Linked DNA regions of Homo sapiens: region 1 is linked to region 2. The links come from fine-mapping of genetic effects on gene expression. Tissue or cell type: whole blood. Region 2 holds a variant in brackets; the other region holds the start of a gene. All regions are shown on one strand. Distances are between the middles of the regions.

Region 1 (8,316 bases), 110 kb after region 2:
AGGTCTCTCCCTTGAGATGAGATTTGGGTGGAGACACAGCCAAACCATATCAGAAAATATTTCACTAATAATGATATTGACTACATATGGAAATGATAATATTTTGAACACATTGGTTTAAATAAAATGCATTTTAAAATTTAATTTCACCTTTTATACTTTTTAAAAATGTGGCCATTAGAAAATTTAAATTAAATACCTAATTCACATTATATTTCTATTGGACCATGCTCAGATAGTGAAAAGAGTAAGGTAACTATCCCCTGAAAATTCTGGTTATTTCTAGGAAAATGGAATATCTCTGCATTTATAAGATTTTTTAAATGTATGGAAAAATGAAAAAATACAGACTGTGTAAAAGATATCAGATTGTGCTATAGTGGTTACTAGGTTTAAGAATAATTTGGAGGCTGAAAAAGAGAAAAAATGCTATCAGGTAGCAATTTTTAAATTGTATTCGTGTGGTTTGCAATCTGTAAATAGCAATGTATCTCTTCCAATTTAGTTAAAAAACAGGACAAGATTGAATTTTTCCCGTGAATTTCCTGTTTTCTATTAAATTTAGTAGGTAATGTTAAGAAAAATTTCCTTTGTAACAGCAAAGAAAGCCAGTGGAATTTACAGCCAAGTTGGTAGCATATCAAAGTAAAATACCTGACACATACTATGTACTTAATAAATAATAAATAATTCACTATTATTATTTATAATAACATTATTAGTATTCTTCAGTAACTAAGCTGCATTCTCTGGACTTCCAGAATCATCTATTCAATCACTCATTCACTCAGTCCGCAAAAATTTTTGATGATGATGGTGATTAGAGGAGGAATGAAATTAAGAAACTCTAAAAACAATTTATCTATTTTCAGGGGTGCTGGTGAGATTTGAAGGTGATTTAATAGTAACTCAAAATAGAACATTAACTCAGGAAAAAAAAACAGGAGCATATATCAAAACAACAATGTTACCTCTTTGCACATTCCAATCACCATTTATTTACTCTTGCAAATTAGATGAGACAAATTAAAACTAGATCCAACTTGAATGTCTAGCTAAGTGTCCTGTGTCTTTTTTTTTTTAAAGAATCTACATTTGAATATACCTCCTACAGAAATTCAAATACAAAATGAGCTCTAGAGAATACCACACATACATGCTGCACATTAAGCAGGAAGCGAGGAAGGTAGATCCGCCTGGGGCAGGAAAATGATATAATTTTCCTCATATTCAATGGTATGGCCCTTCCTCTTCATTCTCACAAGGATTTGACCTTTGTCACAAACACGGATGGTCCTGATCGTGTCACTCCGGAACATGGACGTTATCAAGGACAGCTGCCGGCACTCTTGGTAATAATTTCTCTTTAAATGTAAGTGATCTTTCCTTTGAACATTTTGAGTTGAGATGGATGTGTGTTCAATAAACTTATTATGGCCTCTTCAAAAATCTTTAATATTTTAGTTAACTATGATTGATAGATCTTTTTGTCACTTCTCTCTTCTATTATAGCCATTATTGTTTTTAAAGATGGATGTAGTATAGATGTCACTGAAACAGAGATTCATTTTCACTAACACTAAAAGAAAGCATGTTCTACGCTAATATGTAATCTCAAAAACAACACTGTTTCTTGTAGTAATTATGAACATTCCCAACTTCGCTTTGAGTAAAGAGATGAAATTTTAAAATATAAAGTATTTTCTCTTAAGCAAAAGTGTGCTAATTAATAATTTTACACACACACATATAGACTTATGGACACTTATGGTTCTATTGAGCACTGTTTGAATTTTAGGATGCAAAATAAATTAGATAAATTATCTAGTGAGCAAGAGACAAAATCCAGGTTCTTGTTCATGCACAGTCTTTTTACTGTAGGGTGAAATTTGTCTCAAAAGTGTGAGGTTCAAATTATTTATTTTTCAAAATTCTCACTAGTTTCCATTTTGCTGGTTATGGCCTAACCTTTTTAACTTTGAGTTATTTTCAAGAGAAAATTTGAAAAAGCAGCCTTTGAGGAGAAAGAAGCAATCCAACAAACAAAAAGATAACCACACTGTAATAGGAAATGTGTTTTGAATAGGACATTGGAAGAAAAATAATAATCATTTTTACAGGTAGATCCCAAAGTCAAGGATCTATGTTCAACCATGTGTGTTCCACCATCTTCACAATTGAATGAGTAACCATCATTAAGCAGTTAGCTTAGGCCGTAATATGATTCTTGGACTGAGATTTCAAAAATACCACAGGCCTTCTGAAAGGTTACCCCTTTCTAGCTCCACTATCATCTAATTTTATTAAAAAAAAAAAAAAGGAAAAATTTGAGCTTCTAGAGAGTAGGGGCTACCATTTTGTATCCCACAGGGCCAAGGAACAAGTTTTAATGTATTCATTTAAATTAATTTCAGTATGAGTATTGAAATATATAATAGAAATATTGTAACATTATATATTTTCTATATACTTTTATTATATAGAAAATATATATTACAGAATATATTATTAAATATTGTAGAACAATATATAATACAGAAAAATATATAATACTCAGTAATATATTAAATACTTATTAAAATAGCAAGCTTATATAGGAAGAGTGATGGAGCATTGTGAGAAAGTTTCAGCTTTATTTCTTTGACATTACTTTGTTTCTGCACAAACAAAAGAATTACAGGAATTGTCCAGATTATTCAAATAACTCGAAGTTGAGGAGGGAATATAAGTCAATGATGTAGAAACTCTTTTAAGATTTGAGCTAGCCTACAATCTGTAAAGATCTGTGAAATTGAACTATATTTGTGCTATTTCCATATTAAGTCAAGGCAACAAATCAATATTAATAATAATAACATAGCACTTCTAGAACTTTCTAAAGAGTCCAATAAAGTTTTGTTAGAAAGGATTGTTTTTGAAGTTAAAAACCATGAGAAATTCCAGGAAAATCCACATACCTATGCCATCATACTATCAATCAGGGCAAAACATGCTTGAGTCTTTCATCAAGACTAAATGATTAAGGAGTGGTACATAACTTTTCCCTGTTCTGACTAGCTGAACACTTCCTTTTACTCCACATTTGTTTAATTGGCATGAAATTTCCCACTCCACTAAAACAGATCTTAGGATTTGGACAACACAAAATATCATTTTTTTTGAAAGGATTTGAGGATAAATCCAAACTAATAGAACTGAAACTTCTATATTATGCTGGGTAGCAACTTAGTTTTCCCTACCCTTCTTCATGCTGGGAGATGAAAGAGATTCAGTTACGGCTTAAGCTCCACAGGCATACAAAGTGAAGCAGAAAACTGAGGCACGTGTGCCTCCATTATCTGGTATCTCATGTGGGGCTTAGAGGTAAATTGTCGTTATTTGGCCTCCATTTCTGCCTTTAACCACTGGTGTAAACAAAGGTTACTGTGCCAAAGTTGACAGCAACCCAAATCCCTTTGGCATGTGAATTAGTTTCCTCTGCCATACTGCTAGTTCCAAATTCCTTCTGGTTTCAGGATTTAGGAGTCAGGGTTGCCTCATCTTCTCAAATGAGTTACAGTCACGCACATCCCTACGCACTGCATGGTTGGCACTAGTTCCTTGATATATGTTACTCCGTTTGATCCTCATGAAGGATCAAATGGGGAAGGGAGATACTATTGTCTCTGATTGTCCATTAAGATCTTGAGTATGTTCTACTTCCCTGTTTGACACACTGGTTTGAAAATGTTGCTAAGTCTTCCCAACAATGACAGATACTCAGTGGAAACATGAAGGATTCCGTCAAACTGGTTATTTTGCATCATGTAGACCACTATTTCCCAACCTGCAAGTGCATCATGGCCTTTGGTGTGTCAGGGACACGCCTTGGGTGTGTGTCTCAGTCTAAAGCTTCCTCCTTTTCACAAGCTTCCTGTTTCTCATCTCTCTAGCTTCTAACTGTCACTGTAATCATCTCTTACTCTTCAGCCTGATGTCAAAAGCAAAAGTTCAGAAGTTCCTCATCAATAAGGAGTCCTTGTGAGCAGGTGAAGCTCATCTAACTAGGTAAGATGAAGATCTATCATAACCAGGAGGCAGGTTGGAAGGTGCCAGTTGCACTGGCAGTCAGGTGCAAGAGCTCTGCAGTGAGGCTGCCTGAGTGTCCATCCTAGATCTCTCACCTCTTGGCTCTGTGACCTTGAGCAGGTCTTAAATCTCTCTAAGCCTTTGTTTTTTTAATTGATAAAATGAGGATAATAATAGTACCAAAATTAGGGAGATTTTCAGAGCTTAAATAACATACGTGAACTATTTAGAGTAATGCCTGCCATAAGGGGACTCAGTAGCTTATTATTAGTTTCATACAATTTGAAAAGTTTCATAATATTTGCAGATATAAGATGATCTTCAACCAGATAGCTAATGTATGCAAAGCTATTTAGCTTCAGAAGTAAACTCTGCATTTCTAGAAGTTAAATATTACTTTGTTATAGTGAATTATCTGTAATATTTATCTCTTGCTCACTTTTATAAGAAAAATAGTGAAAGCATTTATTAAGAACTTACACTGCACTAAATGTTATATATGACTTAATCCTCACTATAACCCTATGAGATAGGTTACATTATTGTCCTAATTTTACTAACAAGGAAACCAAGAGACAAAGCTACTAAAACACTTGCCTGAGGTTAGACATCTTCTTCTGTGGTGAGGCTGGATTTCAAATTTAGACCATTTGACTGTAGCACTTATATGATGAGCACGCTGTTTAGTGTTATAGTGTTGGTCTACCTTTGAATAGACATACTTTTAAACCATGGCAAGGAAGTGAGACTGCACATTGAAATACGCAAAATTTGCCTTTGGGTGCCACGTGAGAAATAATCACATCACTAGAAACTAATCATAAGCTTTTGTGTTTGGTTAAAGTTTTATTGATCCATTTTTCTTGTTTACTTTGTGGGATACTGGGCTTAACTAGGGGATACCTCCACTTTTTACTTGGCCATGGTATGAAAACCTGTCCTCTGAATCTTTAGATATTTTGTCAAATTGTAGGCAAACAAAGACTTAAAGCAATTCAACCTTGATTAAAATAAGACCAAAAATGCCTCCATACTTGATTAAATTTATTTCATTTTAGGAACTGGATTATAATCAAGACAACTTCTACATGAAAAAATAGATTAATAGTGCTCCAAGTTAGTTCACTGTATTTATTCCTTTTTATACATTATCTGCCTTCGGTGTTATTCAAGTTTTCATTAATCATTAATAATTTCACTAATCATTTTATTTCATTAATCAACATTGATAGTTAAAATTAATCTGTGAATATTAAATGTTTTATGCCAGGCATTTCTATGATGTGGCTGCTTTTAACAACAACTTGTTTGATCTGTGGAACTTTAAATGCTGGTGGATTCCTTGATTTGGAAAATGAAGTGAATCCTGAGGTGTGGATGAATACTGTAAGTCATGGAAAACTGTGAAGAACATCAAATAAAGCAGGACTAATGGAGTATGAGGTTACGAAAGGTCCTGTTGTAACAGAAAATCTCTGATAAAACAGATAAAATGTAGATGGTTTTTAACCTCTGCAAGAGTCAAGCTAGTTAGATCTTTGTCTGAAAAACAAATACTGTCCGGTAATGAAAACCAAATTGTGCTATTGTGCTATCTATCTATCTATCTATCTATCTATCTATCTATCTATCTATGTATCTATCTATCTATTTATCTATCTATCTATCTATCTATAGATAGAACCTCCTCTTTTGAATTTATGTTTTAAGAATATCAAGCTATTTGTTGATGTACATGATTGCCTTCTATTGATCTATAGTTCTATTACTTTTAAAGCAAGAGGGGTCTCAAAAGACAATTGACTTGATAATATAGCTTTGTCAGAAAGAATGGGTCAATGCTAAATTTTCCCCCAACCCCCCAAAATATTAGCCAATAGTAGATATTTTTTAAAATTCTACTTATTTTGTATTAAGACTTTATTTATTAATTTTACAGTTACCTGGTGCTACAAATTTCAGATAATTCACCCTAATAAGCACACAACAGATGGTTTGTTTTGATTCCTTTTTATATCCTTTGGAGAAGTTCCACTAACGACTGTATTTTTACTGGGCAGAGTGAAATCATCATCTACAATGGCTACCCCAGTGAAGAGTATGAAGTCACCACTGAAGATGGGTATATACTCCTTGTCAACAGAATTCCTTATGGGCGAACACATGCTAGGAGCACAGGTACAAGATATGTCTCTCCTGAAAAGGGGACTGCATTGACCTCCTGCTTCTCAGGAGGAATTTAATGCTAGATATGCATCAACAGAGTTTATCAAAATTGGTTTGAATTATTGGATTAGTCTTTAAATAGTTATCAGGGAGGCTCACTCTTTGCCTGATAATTCTCTGAAGACAGACAGGAACCTAAAAATACAAACAGCAAGACTGATCTTGCTAACTGCAACCAGAGGTACTTGTTAGGGTGTAAACAGAAAGGCAGAGCCTGCATTTTGTCACCTCATTACTGATTTATCATGTGGAAAATTGCTTTGTCCCAGGAAAATGGATCCTCTCATTGTCAGAAGGAGATTTTCTAGGTTGTATGAAATTGACTCTGGGGCACCCAAGAAGAACCTCTCCTGCTCCCACTAAAATTAAGGGGCCTCCCTCTGCAGGATAAAAAACAATCTAGTTAAATGACAACGCATTTCTGAAAAGTTTTCCAGGACTGAAAACCTTAACATCCACATACACTTTGATCTAAGGGACAGACGGTTCATAGAATGAAAGAGTATGGTGTCAATAAGGCTTGAATTCTAGAATGAGGAGCCAGCCATGCCATAGCAGGGGAATGATACTCCTTAAAAGGGAAAATTTAACTACAAATCCTCTGAAGTAGAAATGATAAGAATAACCAAAATATCTGCAATGGTTCAATAGCAAATAATTTATTGGCAGCTGCTTACCGTGTTCATTTTGCATCTTTTTTCCCACCACACATATTAAGGAGCAGCTGAGGTCATGTTTGACATTCTCTCCCTCTTTTATCTCCAGTTTCAGAATGAAAAATGAGAGTGAGATATGAGTAGTTTTACTAGTTAAAATATGAAACACCCAGTTAAATTTGAAGGTCAGATAAACAACAAATAATTTTGTATAAGTCTCATTTTAAGATAATACTAAAAAGTCATTATTTATTCACTATTATCACTATTTATAAAATTTTGTAGAGCATCCTGGAACTTTTTGCTTACTTTTGTTTTTATTTTTTGCTAAATCTGGCAATCCCAGGCACATGTGTGAAGGAGCTGTGAAATATAAAAGGAGAAAACTTTTATGGGAAAGATTTGGCTTAAGGAGAGATAATTTTGGAAAGATTTAGAATTAAAGATCATTCATTAGATGTAATGTTCTAAATACTTTATATCAGTTAAACTTCTCATCAACAATATGAGATGGGTACCACTAATAGTCACCATTTCACAAATGATGAAATTAAGGCACAACCGGTTATGTTAAGAGGCCTAAAGTCCACAAATAGCAAGCTGACAGACCAGAATTTAAGCCCAGGCATGCTGGCTCCAGAGCCTGTGCTCTTAGTCATTAAATTATAGTGCCTTACTTGACCTTCCACCCTGGTTCTTTGGATCTCCCTGAATGCTCTCTCTCCCTCAGAAATCTGGAAGTTGGCAGAGGGACACTGAGCTGAGCATATTATTGTAGTTTTTAAATGCTCTCCACTGGACAGAGGATGGGGATTTGAATAGAAATTTGGTGAGGAACTAATCAGTGTCCATTTACACTCACCTCCTCTTCCTCCCTGGAAGAGCTATAGGACTTGAGTAAGCATGATAAATTTTGTGTCTTTGTAAACCACACCCAGGAAATTTGTATATACAAATACATAGAGCACAGTAGTTATCAGGACAGACTTTGACATAAAAAGAACTGGGTTTGAGTCCCTGCTCTGGCCTTCTTATCTGGGTGGCCCTCTGGGAAAGTTACTTAACTACATAAAGTTTTGTTTCCATATCTACAAAATGAGGTTTCTCAAAATAGCAGCTAGTTTATAGAGTTGTTGCAAGAATTTAGTAAGCTAATACATATAAATACGTCAACATAGCACCAGGTACAAAAATATGTGCTCAAGAAACTGAAGTTACCTGATTATAATGCTCTATACTATTGACAAGGGAAAAGTGAAAACAGTTTTTGTTTTACCATGTGTGTATGTGTGTGTGTCTGTGATGTTTCCGACATGCTCTATTTAACATAAATTACTCTCACTCTTTCTCTCTCTCTCTTTCTCTT
Region 2 (8,316 bases):
CTAATAAGGCATGCTTCCTATATCAAGTTATATAGCGTTATTGAAAAATAGACATGTGAACCAAACATGTCAAAACAATATGATAGAAGTTATTCAAAAATTAGGGCCAAAGAAAAATGATGGCACAAAGGAGGAATGACATTTGTTTGGGGAGAACGTAGTAGAATCCATAGCAGAAATATTTGAAATTGACTAGAGGTTGCCCACATGGAAAACGGCATTGAAATCATTTTAGGACAAGGATGCAGAAGTACCAAACTGAAGAGGTGAACAAGAACATAGTGCTTTTTAGAATCTATTAGTAGTTCAATGTAGAGTCATAATTCTCAAACTAGAGATCTCCCAGGGACACACCTAGATGTCAGAGACAGGAGTAAGAAATGTGAAACTGAAGGAATAGAGGGAATGAAGGAGGAAAGTAATACCAGGGTGGGTAATAGAGTGGTGGTGAAGAGGTGATCATTTCAAACTTAATGTGTCCAAATCTCACCTCTGGATTTCCCTTTAATAACTTTTCAGTTTCCTAGTCTTTACCAGCTCATTAAATGGCAAAATAATAACTTCATTGGGCCAGGTGAGAAATCTGCTCATGTCTAAAAACTCCAAGTCTAGCTCATTCTAGCTCTTAAATTTATCTCAAATCTGTCTGCACCCAGGCCATCACTCTAGTCCAAGCGACTGTTAGTTCTCTGCTGTTGACCTGAGTCTCTGCCTTTGACCTGTGTTTATGTGAACCCCTCTAACACATCTTTCTCATAGTTGCCAGGGCAATCTCCTAACAGGCTAAATTGTTTATCATCATTCCACTTATCTCACACAACTCTCGTCCTCATTCTCAATTCTTCAGTAATTTGGCCTACTTTCAGCTCCTCAAACAAGCATCTTCCAAGCTGAGAGTTTTAAGATCTGTTCCCTGAAATAATTTCCCCACACTCCCCACCCAGCTAGCACCTTCTCATCCTTCAGTTCTCACATTTAAATACTACTTTCTCAAATCATTCTCTGACTATGAAAGCAGTTTCACCTTTTCCTACCTTCTACACTTTAGTCTTTTTGTTCCTGTATTCACCACATTGCCCTTATGTAAGTATCTGTGTGCCAACTTGTTTAATGTCTGTCATAAGCCACTACACTGTAAACTCTGTAAGGACAGGAAACAGATCTACTTTGGCATGATTTACCTAATATAATGTCTAGAAAACAGTAGATTCCTGATGAATCAATCAATCAGTGATAAAACTGGTGTCACTTGGAGTGCTTATTTACATAAATCCCAGGCCCTAGCCCAGGAAATTTTGATTCAGCAGGCCTGGAGCTGACTGCAGGTATCTACAATTTTAATTAGCACTTTAGGTGATTCAGAGACATGTGACCCACAGAACACTCTAAGAGAAACATTGAGTTTGGAGTTTGATGCCATAATGAAGGCAAAATAATGAGGTTTTGAACTAAGGTGGAGGAACTGAATGGAAAGAAGCAGCCAGTGACACAATAGCACCTTTAATTCACTAAGAGTTAGGAATGTTACTACCTACATATTGTGATGTCATGGATCTCAGAAATACGCTTCAAATTTATTTCCTGTATCTTTTTTCCTGAATTCTTCATTTTTGCTGTCACCTCTTTGGAGGTTTTCTTTTTCTTTTTTTTTTTTTTTAATCTGCAGCAGTAAGGCAAAAACCAGTGTACATATCAGATAAAATGCGTTCATGTGATTAAACCAAAATAGCCATTAATACCCAATAGGCTGCAAACCAAAAGCAGAAATTGCCAAAGGCCCAAAGTATATGAAAACACAGAGAATGTAAAGGGAGATAGCATTTGTTCTATGGGAGAGTGAGAGAGATGCTACAGAAAGGGAGAGGATGGGGCAGATTCTCCAAAGGTCACTGTGAACACTGGAATTAGGGGATAAGAAAAGGTGAACAAGAGAAAGAAACTCAGAAGATCAACTCTGCTTCTTTTATGGTGTCATAAGAACTGCAGCAGAAGGGAAGACATGCAAGAAAAGAAGATTTGGGGGATCAGACTCAGAGATTCAGTCGAGGAATAGACGCTTTCCCTCTTCTCTTTGTGACATTTGTGTAATATTTTGATGTAGAACAGGTAACAAATTGACAAGTTGGCAATAAATTCATCTCTGTAAGAATCGTTTATGGAGCCTTGGATTTAACAACTCAGGTCATTTAGTGGCTGCAGTAGGCTCAGATGATAGAGCTCATTTTCCTTCTTGCCATTGTCCATTCCTCACAAGAAAAACCCTCCTTCTCAGTCATGTCATCTTTGCTTCAAAACATTTCTACTTATTGAAGTTGAACTGTTTACTTGCAGCAAAACTTCAGTTATAAATGTAGTCCCAGATAATTCACCAAAGTCACTGTACTAAATTAGGGCTGATAAAGGGAGGATATCATTTTTAAGGAGCATAGAAAAATAACAAAATGTAAACACTAAATTTAAATATGAATACTGAAAAACTATACACTTTGGGCATTAGAACAATGATTCAGAACTATAGTAATTGCTTTCCAAGTAAAACCATTTATCAAGTTTAAATCAAGTATTTACAAACGATGACCTATGTGTGAAAAATAATACATAAAAATATTAAATTATTTTGCATCATTTGAAAGAAGGCATTGGTATAATGAAGAGAGAAGTGACTTGGTAGTCACCCCTGAATCTATCAGTAACAAGATTTGTGACATTTTCACAACTCTGTCAATCTCCTAGAGCCTTAGTTTCCTAGCCTATAATACTTGAGGACCTGAGGCAAACCAGATGATTCTCTTCTACTCTTAATATTTAATTCTAGGTCTTGCAAAAAGAATGGAAAAAGAAGTTAATGCATTGCTTTCCTTTGAAGTACTCACAGCCTAGTTTGGGAGATCACAGAAAACAAGCCACTCCATTTATAATTGTTCTTTTTTCTTAATCACACTGAATAAACACAAAATCAGTTGCAACTTTTTTTCTATATCTCTCTCTCTCACCTGATTCTGAGTGCCACAAAAGTAGGGACTATGATTTAATTAGTCCCAGCGATGTGAGCCTGGAAGCTGGAGCACCTTAAATGCTTAGTGAATCTCTATACAAATGAGAAAATTAAAAAAAGAAAGAAAGAGAGAAAGAAAGAGAGAAAAGAACAAAAAAGGCTCAAAACCAAAAACCATAAAAGTTATCATTAAATCCAGGAAAAACTGAGTGAGCTCTTCTTGAACTTGGCACTTAATTGTCTCCATGCTCCTGCCTTTTCTGAGTCCTGCCAGTCCCTCTAGAATAATGCACACATGTATGCAAGCACACAAACTACAAACAAGGAAATCTGTCAAGCATTGCATATGCCATGAAGATGAGGGAAAATGTCCGGGGAAGGCTTGGGATCAGCTGAAAGGGGGAAGATGCTGAGGGCATCTAGCCAAGAACTCCCAGGTCATGAGGTGGGCAGGAGAAGGCTTTCCCCAATAGTTCTCTATGTTCCGTGGGAGGGAAAGTACTCATTAGTCTCTACTTCTGCACTGTGCCCATAAAGTGAAAATAAAGGAAGTAATCAACCAGACTTAGATTCTTTCAGTACCATGTACCCTCTCCTATTCATAAACTTGAAGTGTTAAGGTCTCACACTTGCTATGAAACTTCCTGTTGAGATGTCCAAGAGGAAAAAGATCATTAGAACTGGGGCTGCTGGAAAATTCTGATTAGTCATATAAAGTTGAATTAAGATTGAGGTTAAAGAATCTCCTTCACTCCTTTCACACCACCATTCCCAAGTCTAAAAACTTGCTATTTCCAAACTTTCTGCATTTCTTTAGACATTGCCATTGAGTTGTCAGGTAC[C/T]GAGGGAAACAAGAAGAAGAAAGAGGGGATTCTGAAGAAGTTAAAATATGTTTTCATCTCAGACATACACAACTTTTAAGAATGCAAGTGACTAAAAATGTAAAATTGTGTGATTCCTTTAGAAAAACAGTTTAACAGTTTCTTCAAAAGTTAAACATACACTTACTATATGACCCAGAAATTTCACTCCTACATATTTACTCAAAAAAATGAAAGGGTATATCATTCCAAAGACTTGTACACAAATGTTTATAGCAGCCTTAACTCTAATAGCAAAAAAACTGTAAACAAAGTATCAGAGGTAAATAGATAAATTGTGGTATATTCAGACAGTAAATACTACTCAGCAGTATCAAAAAACAAACTATTGGCACATGCAACAACATAGATGAATCTCACAGCTGCAATGCTGAATGAAAAAGAGTACATACTGTATGATTTACATTGATTATAGGAAAACAATCTATATCAATAGAAATCAGGTTACTGTTTCCTTGGGGAAGGGGATAGAGAATGATTGACTACAATGGAGGAGCTTAAGGGAACTGGGTAGATAGCAATGTTCTAGAACTTTACTGGCTGGTGGTTACATGGATAAGGAGGTCATCAAACTCATTTAAGTGTTTACTTAAATGGTGTGAATTTTCTTGTATATAAGTTAGACCTCAATAAAATTAATTTTAACAAAATTCAAAATTACTCTAAAGCTGAAGTTTTGTGGTATCCTTTATGGGTATCAGAAATGAAAAGAAAATACTAGATCCATATAGTTAATCACCACCTACCAGCTCTCCCCAACTCTAATCACCTATATAAATCCCAGGGAGAAATCAGTGATTAAAATATGTAATGCTGAAGTCAAAATGAGAGAAATTGGAGCATAGAGTATGCTGTATAGGATGTAAATTAGGAATATATTTATTTAAACAAAAATAGTACTGACATAAATTTTAGAAGAATAAAGTGATCACTCGATCAAAGCATCAATCTGAAAGTTGTTTAATCTAGCAGGAGCCAGGTGTGGTGGCTCACACCTGTAATCCCAGCCCTTTGGGAGGCGAAGGGGGGCAGATCACTTGAGGCCCAGAGTTGGAGTCCAGCCTGGCCAATGTGGTGAAACCTCGTCTCTACTAAAAAATACAAAAACTAGCCAGGCGTGGTGGCAGGTGCTGTAATTCCAGCTACTTGGGAGGCCGAGGTGCAAGAATCACTTGAACCTGGGAAGTGGAGGTTGCAGTGAGCCAAGATCATGCCACTACACTCCAGACTGGGTGACAGAGTGAGACTTCATCTCAAAATAATAATAATAATGATAATAATAATCCAGTAGGAAGAAGGTTAATGTTACATATCTTCATGCAGTAAGAAAAACTTAATAGCTAGGACTGAGGTGGGAGGTTGATCTGAGCCCAGGGAGGTCGAGGCTTCAGTGAGCACTGATTACAACACTGCATTCCAGTCTGAGTGACAGAGTGAGATCCTGAAGAAAGGAAAAGAAAGAAAGGGAGGGAAGAAAAGGAAGAAAAGGAAGGAAAGGAAGAAAGAAAGAAGGGAGGGTGGTAGGGAGGGAGGGGGGAGGGAGGGAAAATCTTAATAGTGGTCATAATAGTTACCATTAATTGTATGCTTATTGTATGCCAGGTGCTTTACATACACTGTCTCACTGAATTCTTAATACTTTGCAGTAGGTATTAACAATCTTATTTTAGAGTGAAGAAGTGAATTTATAGTGATTAAATAACTTGCCATGGATCCTACAAATAGTAAATAACAGAACCAAGATTAGATCCCAAAATGACAGTTGGATATATGGTATTGAAGTTTAGGAGAAAGATTGGGTTAGAGATATTGGAAGTCATATCTGTACAAATTAAATGGGCTGGACAAAGAAAGGATGAGAAGAGTGAGAAAACCAACAGGATGATGACAGGATGTTACAGCGTTGGACCTGAATATACATGTAATACATATATGTAGGAAATATGTATTATATGTACATATATTAAATATATAAATAGTAGATATGTATTATACGTACATGTAATACATATACGGTAAATATATATTATATATACATACATGTATTATGTATATAAAATATATTACACACACATGAAGTTATTTAATTATTTATTTTCTCTTTAAAGAAGAGGGCTTTCTGCATCTGGGAATTGTGGAGAGAGTGTTGCTATGGGGCTTACTTGGATTTCTAGTCCCCACCCTTCTATTAACTATGAAACACCTTTAGCAAAGTTTTTTGTTACAGAGCTCCTTTCTTTTTAATGGCTTAGCACCTGTGATTCTTTATTTCCAAATAGCCATAACTTTTTCTTAAATTACTATTTTATCTCTTTATAACATAAACGTATTCTAAAAAGAAAATAGTTGCATAATAACTATTATATATATTATTGTCTTAATCACATATTTTCAATATGAAGAAAATTTAAAAAATACCAATTTTATACTACTCGAATGATTTTCCCAGAATAATTGAGCTGTATATATCAAAGTCTGGTCAGAATAAAGAAGCCACTCTAAGTATTCCAAGCAGAAAGTGTTCTTATATGTGGAATTAGATGCTTACAGAACTGATGGAACTTCTCAAGCAATGAAGATCAAAAAAAAGTCACGGCTAGAAATGAGTGATTTACAGGAACTTTCCTGGGAGTTGCTGCAAGTGAAGCTCAGGAATAAAAGGGGAGCCATGATGGCAGATTTCAGGTGCCTGCAGCACTGTGTGGGTGATTCCCAGGAGTTCACCCAGAAGCCACCATAAGTTTCTGTTATCAGCCTGTGCACCTGCTCACAACTGCCCCAATGAATGAAAACCCTTTCATTAAGACAAAAGCAGAAACACATCATAGGAAAGAGAATTCAAACATGCTCCCCTTCTAAACAGAGGAGAATATAGAAAGGATTATGGGTGATGTCAAACTAATACCATATAAAACAGCACCAGAAATGATCAGTTTTTATATCTCGCTCCGGGTAGCTGTATATGAATCAAATCTAGGATTCCCAACAAACATTAATGTATAAATGAAGTGACGTAGATGTGATAGGACAAGTTGGACTAATTCTATGATATACATAATGAATTCTTTAATTGATTATGAATATTTTAATAAAGTATAACTTAAAGTACTTTCATAATCATATGAATGCATTATTTGTCTTTTATTGCTGTTATTGCAGTAGATTGAATGCAGACACAAATATAAAAATCCAACTGCTTTGTGGAGCCAGACGTGAAAGAGATTTGCAAAACTATAAAGCACTTGTCTCACTAATTTTATATACATATAACCCACATTTTTTAAAAAAGCTTTTGAAAGTCCTAATAATTTTAAGAGTGTAAAGGGTCTTGAAAACAAAAAGTGAGAATTACTGAATTAGAAAAGTGAATCCTCAATTGACTTTCTGATAAACATATTTTCTTGGAGCATATCTTCAAACCACAAGTTAACTGCCATTTTATCTTACACTAAACTTTTTTAAAAATCTCATTGCATTAGAAAAGTTTGCATTGACTGCAGCATTTGCCAAATAGCTTCATGACTCACAACTAAAGATAGGTTACACATTGGAAATTCAAGAGACCAAGAAACCAACTAGTAGGTAATGAAGGACCTCATGAACCTTGAGTCCCTTGTTGGGAAATACTTTCAAGATAAGTGATTTAGGATAAAAAGTCCAAATGAGATAGCCTTCATTTTTCAAGAGAAAAACAGAATATAATCTGAGCTTTGACTCATTCCACACATTATGTTCTAATTTATGTAAAATAGTTTTTGGATTAATCATGACTTTTTCTTGGACTCCTTCACTATTTCTTACTCATCCCTGACATCAGAGGCTGTTTGGCTTTCTGGAGCCAGAGTACAAAAATGCAGATGGAAGGCAGGAAGCAAAATTACATGGCTGGATTTGGGGGATTTTTCACATGAAAATATGAATCTAAAAAAACCACAAACTCTGAAATAAGAATTCTGTAAAGCTCCCTACACGTTAAGCACATTTATATACAATTGTATTTTGTAGTTCTAATATCAATATTCAGTTCTGCCTAAGTTAGTCCTTTACCTCAGTGATCACAATAGTATTTTCTGTTTGTGTTCAATCAGAATTTCTTTCTAAGCTTTATTAGATGTCATCCCATTCTTGTCCCTTGCTACTTTATGCTGGGATGATCATTTATATTTTGTAGCTGTTAGTGCTCTTGGAAGATTTCCTCAGTTTCTGCTAATGTAATTTCCAAAATTTATTCAAATATAGATTATTTTTATTTAATTTTCTCCAGTGCACTCTGAGAAATGCTTGGCACTATTAATCTGTTAACCCAGAGATTGCATCTAGGTTTAAAATCTTGAATCTTACTTTCTATTTTTCTCTAACTCCCTGTTGCCCTTCTCCTTAATAATGGGAAACCCTAATTCTTTCCCTTTGGCAGTAACTTCCTGTTTTGAATAAGAGTAA

What was found. PIP is the estimated chance that this variant, and not a neighbour inherited with it, causes the effect.
Region 1: it holds the start of LIPN, and the variant in region 2 is fine-mapped to the expression of LIPN in whole blood (INTERVAL, PIP above 0.99).

The regions. Positions count from the first base shown.
Region 1 is chr10:88,756,060-88,764,375 of GRCh38, forward strand. LIPN (lipase family member N) reads left to right here and starts at 3,961. Exons shown (of 10, transcript NM_001102469.2): 1 at 3,961-4,047; 2 at 5,339-5,454; 3 at 6,129-6,246. The coding sequence starts at 5,347. RefSeq lists an enhancer at 3,116-4,315.
Region 2 is chr10:88,643,788-88,652,103 of GRCh38, forward strand. No RefSeq gene overlaps it. Among named protein-coding and RNA genes, the nearest start is that of LIPF, 16 kb to the right of the region's middle. The variant C/T (reference allele first, on the strand shown) is at 3,838.